2 linked regions of the Homo sapiens genome follow. The protein of the gene in region 2 interacts with the protein of the main gene of each other region in a biochemical or structural test. Each region holds a gene or a part of one and is shown on either strand. Other genes may lie near its edges.

Region 1 (3,746 bases), on a different chromosome or scaffold from region 2:
CACACACACACACACACACACACACGCCTGGAGTGGGATCTAGACTACAGATCCCAGCATGCCCTGTGACTGACACACACACACACACACACACACACACCTGGAGTGGGATCTAGACTACAGATCCCAGCATGCCCTGTGACTCTCTCACACACACACACACACACACACACACCTGGAGTGGGATCTAGACTACAGATCCCAGCATGCCCTGTGACTCACACACACACACACACACACACACACACACACACACACACGCCTGGAGTGGGATCTAGACTACAGATCCCAGCATGCCCTGTGACTCTCACACACACACACACACACACACACACACACACACACACGCCTGGAGTGGGATCTAGACTACAGATCCCAGCATGCCCTGTGACTCACACACACACACACACACACACACCAGGCGGGGGAAGAGCTGGGGAGTGGGGGCGGGGAAGTCTTGTGACTACAAATCCCAGAATGCTCTGGAGCTAGGAAGGAACAGGACGGCTTTGGGGAGGGGTCGTGGGACTCCAGATCCGGGCGTGCCTTGGGACAAGGCAGGGACAGACCGGCGGGGGGCGGCCTGGTACTTCAGGTCCTGGCACGCTGGGGACTGGCGCTCACCTTAAAGGAGTCCACAAACTCGTCACTCATCCTCCGGAGCTCGCGGCCATAGCGCTGTGCTGCCCAGAGGTTGGGGGGCGCCGAGCGCGAGCGGCCCCGAAAGGGGCTGGGCTCCTCCCCCATCCCTTCGTCGTCCTCCGTCCCCGCGGGGTAGGAGCTGTGGCGACTCCGGATCTCCACAGCCCCAGCGCCTGCAGAGGGTCAGTGGGTAGGGGGGCGACGTTAATCTCAGCTCCTCTAAGCCCCTGGCCCTGCCTGAACCCTCCCCATCAGCTCTGCAGGCCCACTCGTGGGTCTTCCAGGGGCGCATCACAGCCCACCTCTCAGAGCCCCAGTCCCTTGTATGTGAATCGAGGGGAAGCTCAGGGGCCTTTGGTGAAGATTTAGGTTAACTTCTCATTAATCCCACGAATCCTTACCGAGTGCCAATAATGGGTGAGGCCCTGTGCCTAGCACAAAATAAGGGCATAAGAAATACTAGTTACATCACAAGGTCAGGAGATCGAGACCATCCTGGCCAACATGGTGAAACCCTGTCTCTACTCAAAACACAAAAATTAGCTGGGCATAGTGGCACGTGCCTATAGTCCCAGTTACTCGGGAGGCTGAGGCAGAAGAATCGTTTGAACCCAGGAGGGAGAGGTCGCAGTGAGCCGAGATCACGCCACTGCACTCCAGCCTGGGCGACAGGCTTTTTTTCTCAAAAGAAAAAAAAAAAAAGCAAGAAGTATTATTAGTGCAAGACCTTCATGGGGCCTCCTGGCAACCCCTGGGTTGGTAGCTATTTCATAGTGTCTGTTCTACATCGGAGGAAGCCAATCCCTTGGATAGGAAAGTGTCCTGCCACAGCCGGCAGGATTGAATGCCTCCTCTGCAAGGGACCTGCAGAGCCCCTGGAGAACAAGAACTTGGCCGCTACATGTCCGCATCCCCCACAGAGCCTTCTCTGGAGACAGTGTCTGGAACTGTTGACGTTTTTAGGTACCATTGATGGTGCACTTACGTGTAGGCCGAGACATTCCCTTATTATCCTCCTAACCACCCTGGGAGGTGAGTACCAAACATGCTTAGGTGAGAAGACAGAAGCTTAGAGAGTTAAGACTTGCCCAGTTTCTGTGAAGCTGTGGAGGCCTGAGGCTGGAAGGTTCCAAAGGTTTGGTGGAATCCAGAGTCCAGTGATGATCAGCGGAGCTCTGTGTCTCTCCCCTTGTCTAGCCAGCCTTCGACTCTCTTAGCCTGTGTCCTCACCTTTATGAGGGGATAATCCTAGCCCTGACTCCCAGTGGCTGTGTGAACATCACATAAAATTAAAAAATGTGAAAGTGCTTTGTGGCTGGGCGTGATTCCTCACGCCTGTAATCCCAGCACTTTGGGAGGCTGAGGCAGGTGGATTGCTTGAGTTCAGGAGTTCGAGACCAGCCTAGGCAACATTGCAAAACCCCATCTCTATTAATTTAAAAAATTAATAAAAGAAGGCCAGACGTGGTGGCTCACGCCAGTAATCCCAGCACTTTGGGAGGCCAAGGCAGGTGGATCACCTGAGGTCAGAAGTTCGAGACCAGCCTGGCCTCAAACTCTGGTGAAACTCCGTCTCTACTAAAAATACAAAAATTAGTTAGGTGTGGTGGTTCACGCCTGTAGTCCCAGCCACTCAGGAGGCTGAAGCAGGAGAACTGCTTTAACCCAGTGGGTGGAGGTTGCAGTGAGCCGAGATTGTGCCACTGCACTCCAGCCTGGGTGGCAGAGCGAGACTCTGTCTCAAATAATAATAATAATAACAAAAGAAAAAAGAAAGTGCTTTGTAGGCTGCAAGTGCACTATGGGTTATTATTCAGAGGCCCGCCTACTATGGTCTATTTGAACTGTGCTCTGTGCCATCTCCCAACTCCTGCCAACTCCACTCCTCTACCCAGACCGATAAAGACTTAGAACCACTCCCCTGAGCAAACACTCAGAGTGCAATGACAGAGTGAGAAGCAGGTGGGGGGCTGGGCGCAGTGGCTCACGCCTGTAATCCCAGCACTTTGGGAGGCCGAGGTTGGGGAGATCACGAGGTCAGGAGTTTAAGACCAGACTGACCAAGATGGTAAAACCCCGTCTCTACTAAAAATACAAAAAAATTAGCCAGGCGCGGTGGCAGGCACCTGTAATCCCAGCTACTCGGGAGGCTGAAGCAGAAGAATCGCTTGAACCTGGGCAGCAGAGGTTACAGTGAGCCAAGATCACGCCACTGCACCCATCTCAAAAAAAAAAAAAAAAAAAAAAAAAGAGAGGCAGGTAGGGAAACATGCTGGGTGTTTATGGCAAGATATGTCTGTCAGGGAGGCTCTTTGGAGGAGGTAAATTACAGGCCAGGAACTGAAGGCGGGGGATAACCATTGGAATGTCTCTTCTCCCCTCAGAGGACCTGAGGACCTGGCCTGTGGGCCAGTGCAGGGCCTCCAGGGGTCCCAGCTAGGACACATAAATGAGACACATGACTAAGAAAGCAAGTAGGTGGCCGGGTGCGGTGGCTTACGCCTTTAATCCCAACACTTTGGGAGGCCGAGGCAGGCGCATCACGAGGTCAGGAGATCGAGACCATCCTAACACGGTGAAACCCCATCTGTACTAAAAGTACAAAAAATTAGCTGGGCATGGTGGCTGGCGCCTTAGTTCCAGCTACTCGGGAGGGTGAGGCAGGACAATGGCGTGAACCCGGGAGGCGGAGCTTGCAGTGAGCTGAGATCACGCCACTGCACTCCAGCCTGGGTGACAGAGTGAAACTCTACCTCGAGAAAAAAAAAAAAAGCAAGTAGGCGCAGTGGCTCACGCCAGTAATCCCAACACTTTGGGAGGCCAAGGCAGGTGGATCACTTGAGGCCAGGAGTTCGAGATCAGCCTGACCCAACATGGCAAAAACCCATCTCTACTAAAAATACAAAAAAAGGCCAGGTGTGGTGGCTCACGCCTGTAATCCCAGCACTTTGGGAGCCCAAGGCAGGTGGATCACGAGGTCAGGAGTTCGAGACCAGCCTGACCCACATGGTGAAACCCTGTCTCTACTAAAAACACAAAAATTAGCCAGGTGTGGTGGCGCGAGCCTGTAATCCCAGCTACTCAGGAGGCTGAGGCGGGAGAAT
Region 2 (3,746 bases):
AGTTCGAGTCCAGCCTGGGCAACATAGCAAAAGCCATCTCTTAAAAAAAAAAAAAAAAGGCCAACTAAGTAAAAATTAAAAAAATCATAATTTGGTGTGCTTTTCTGGCTTTTTAAAGAATGTTTTGATTTTAGAGTAGGAATGAGACAAAATAAAGATGTCAGGCAGGGCACAGTGGCTCATGTCTGTAATCCCAGCACTTTGGGAGGCTGAGGCAGGCGGATAACGAGGTCAGGAGTTCGAGACCAGCCTGGCCAGTATGGCGAAACCCCGTCTCTACTAAAAATACAAAAATTAGCAGAGCGTAGTGGCGTGCACGTGTAATCCCAGCTACTCAGGAGGCTGAGGCAGAATTGCTTGAGCCTGGGAGGCAGAGGTTGCAGTGAGCTGAGATCGCACCACTGCACACCAGCCTCCAAGATACAACAGAGCAAGACTCTGTCTCAAAAAAAAAAAAAAAGTCATAGCATATTTGTACACATTGTAGTACTCATTTGTCATCTTTCTTGACCCCAATAATCCAGTGTCCCTATATATTTGCACTCGAGCCCTATTAAGTAAGCCGCTGTGCTTCTAGAAGACCTTTTTCTTTTCTTGGTGCTTTGTCAAAGACTCTTGGAGATAAAAATACACACGTGCAACTTGTTTGTCCTCTTGTCCTTTTTTGCTAGGGGCTATTCATGCTGATTAATTTAAAACTGTCTGCTTGCGCGTACACACGTCTGCGAGTGTGAATGTGTATGTGTGTATCTATGTACCTCATTTGAGAAAGTGCGGCCAACTAGGATTGGCTACGAGGCAAAGGTGGAGACCTTTAGGAGCCCACCCACCCCAGCGTTAGGACGGTGGGCCTGAAAGTTACTATATGGAAGTCCTCATCGTGTAGCACTAAACCAGTGTAAAAGGTGTTAGGGACAGAGGGAAAACATTGACTTAAACTGTCGTAAAGCCCTTGATAAACCCCTTCCCTGGAGCGCTGAGTTCTGCATGGCCTGGGCCACGGACTAGGTGTTCAGGTGGACACGGGCGGGGATGCGCGTGCGTGTGTAGTGCGCGGACACCTAGGAAGCTACTTGAAAGTAAACACCACGCTCGGGGCGTCCCTAGACATTGCTTAAAACGTGCAGAGTCACCTGTCTTCACAGCAGGGCAGCGCTGAGGTCCCACTGCTGGGGGCGGTGGGGGGCGGCATTGGCCTGGGTCTTCCCCCGGCGGCCGAGCGCCGGTAACACAACGTGTGTGTGTGTAGGCGCGTGTACACACTCTCATACACGGCTAGAAAGGGTCCAGGCGACACACACACTCCCACATACACGGCTAGAAAAGGTCCAGGCGAGACACACACACACACACACACACACACACACACTCCACACACACTCACACGGCCAGAAAGGGTCCAGGCGGTTCCCGGCGCTTTTCCAGCCCTTGTTTTCATGGCGCACCCTCCCGCCAGCCGCCCCCCTCCGCACTCCGTCGTCCGCCCGGCCCGGCCGCGTGCGGTTCCCCGGGAGCCCCCACCCCGTCGCGGACCCCAGCGACCACCAAGTCCGCACGCGGCCTGCCGCAGGCCTGAGCAGAAGGCCCCGCGCACACCCACCGCGCCGCGGCCGCGCGGGAGGCCTGTGCCGCCCGCGCCACCCACTGGCCGGGCCCCGCGGGCGCAGCGGAGCGGGCGGGTGGCCGGCCCGGACGCGCCCTCCCCGGCCGCGGCCCCGCGCGCCATGTGCCCCCGGCGGGACGCGCCACTCCCGGGCCTGCCGCGGCGCCTTTAACCCGGGCCAGGGAGCGGGGCGGAGGGGGCGGTCGGGTGGCTCAGAGGAGGGCTCTTTCTTTCTTCTTTTTTTGAATGAACCGTGTGACGTTACGCACAGGAAACCGGTCGGGCTGTGCAGAGAATGAAGTAAGAGGACAGGCACCACAGCCCCGCTCCCGCCCCCTTCCTCCCGCGCCCGCCCCTCCGCGCCGCCTGCCCGCCCGCCCGCCGCGCTCCCGCCCGCCGCTCTCCGTGGCCCCGCCGCGCTGCCGCCGCCGCCGCTGCCAGCGAAGGTGCCGGGGCTCCGGGCCCTCCCTGCCGGCGGCCGTCAGCGCTCGGAGCGGGCTGCGCGGCGGGAGCTCCGGGAGGCGGCCGTAGCCAGCGCCGCCGCGCAGGACCAGGAGGAGGAGAAAGGGTGCGCAGCCCGGAGGCGGGGTGCGCCGGTGGGGTGCAGCGGAAGAGGGGGTCCAGGGGGGAGAACTTCGTAGCAGTCATCCTTTTTAGGAAAAGAGGGAAAAAATAAAACCCTCCCCCACCACCTCCTTCTCCCCACCCCTCGCCGCACCACACACAGCGCGGGCTTCTAGCGCTCGGCACCGGCGGGCCAGGCGCGTCCTGCCTTCATTTATCCAGCAGCTTTTCGGAAAATGCATTTGCTGTTCGGAGTTTAATCAGAAGAGGATTCCTGCCTCCGTCCCCGGCTCCTTCATCGTCCCCTCTCCCCTGTCTCTCTCCTGGGGAGGCGTGAAGCGGTCCCGTGGATAGAGATTCATGCCTGTGCCCGCGCGTGTGTGCGCGCGTGTAAATTGCCGAGAAGGGGAAAACATCACAGGACTTCTGCGAATACCGGACTGAAAATTGTAATTCATCTGCCGCCGCCGCTGCCTTTTTTTTTTCTCGAGCTCTTGAGATCTCCGGTTGGGATTCCTGCGGATTGACATTTCTGTGAAGCAGAAGTCTGGGAATCGATCTGGAAATCCTCCTAATTTTTACTCCCTCTCCCCGCGACTCCTGATTCATTGGGAAGTTTCAAATCAGCTATAACTGGAGAGTGCTGAAGATTGATGGGATCGTTGCCTTATGCATTTGTTTTGGTTTTACAAAAAGGAAACTTGACAGAGGATCATGCTGTACTTAAAAAATACAAGTAAGTTCTCTGCACAGGAAATTGGTTTAATGTAACTTTCAATGGAAACCTTTGAGATTTTTTACTTAAAGTGCATTCGAGTAAATTTAATTTCCAGGCAGCTTAATACATTCTTTTTAGCCGTGTTACTTGTAGTGTGTATGCCCTGCTTTCACTCAGTGTGTACAGGGAAACGCACCTGATTTTTTACTTATTAGTTTGTTTTTTCTTTAACCTTTCAGCATCACAGAGGAAGTAGACTGATATTAACAATACTTACTAATAATAACGTGCCTCATGAAATAAAGATCCGAAAGGAATTGGAATAAAAATTTCCTGCATCTCATGCCAAGGGGGAAACACCAGAATCAAGTGTTCCGCGTGATTGAAGACACCCCCTCGTCCAAGAATGCAAAGCACATCCAATAAAATAGCTGGATTATAACTCCTCTTCTTTCTCTGGGGGCCGTGGGGTGGGAGCTGGGGCGAGAGGTGCCGTTGGCCCCCGTTGCTTTTCCTCTGGGAAGGATGGCGCACGCTGGGAGAACAGGGTACGATAACCGGGAGATAGTGATGAAGTACATCCATTATAAGCTGTCGCAGAGGGGCTACGAGTGGGATGCGGGAGATGTGGGCGCCGCGCCCCCGGGGGCCGCCCCCGCACCGGGCATCTTCTCCTCCCAGCCCGGGCACACGCCCCATCCAGCCGCATCCCGGGACCCGGTCGCCAGGACCTCGCCGCTGCAGACCCCGGCTGCCCCCGGCGCCGCCGCGGGGCCTGCGCTCAGCCCGGTGCCACCTGTGGTCCACCTGACCCTCCGCCAGGCCGGCGACGACTTCTCCCGCCGCTACCGCCGCGACTTC

Evidence for each region. The genes of interacting proteins can lie anywhere in the genome.
Region 1: the proteins of BCL2 (region 2) and BAD form a complex in vitro, tested with the Homo sapiens proteins (5 studies listed by BioGRID and IntAct, with this or other methods).

Annotation. Positions count from the first base shown.
Region 1 is NC_000011.10:64,270,989-64,274,734, forward strand, and holds part of BAD (bcl2-associated agonist of cell death), read right to left. Parts: intron 816-3,746; coding exon 625-815; intron 1-624. UniProt on the Homo sapiens protein: Promotes cell death. Successfully competes for the binding to Bcl-X(L), Bcl-2 and Bcl-W, thereby affecting the level of heterodimerization of these proteins with BAX. Can reverse the death repressor activity of Bcl-X(L), but not that of Bcl-2.
Region 2 is NC_000018.10:63,318,331-63,322,076, reverse strand, and holds the start of BCL2 (apoptosis regulator Bcl-2), read left to right. Parts: upstream 1-2,307; 5' UTR 2,308-2,903; exon of another isoform or gene 2,904-3,124; 5' UTR 3,125-3,410; coding exon 3,411-3,746. UniProt on the Homo sapiens protein: Suppresses apoptosis in a variety of cell systems including factor-dependent lymphohematopoietic and neural cells. Regulates cell death by controlling the mitochondrial membrane permeability. Appears to function in a feedback loop system with caspases.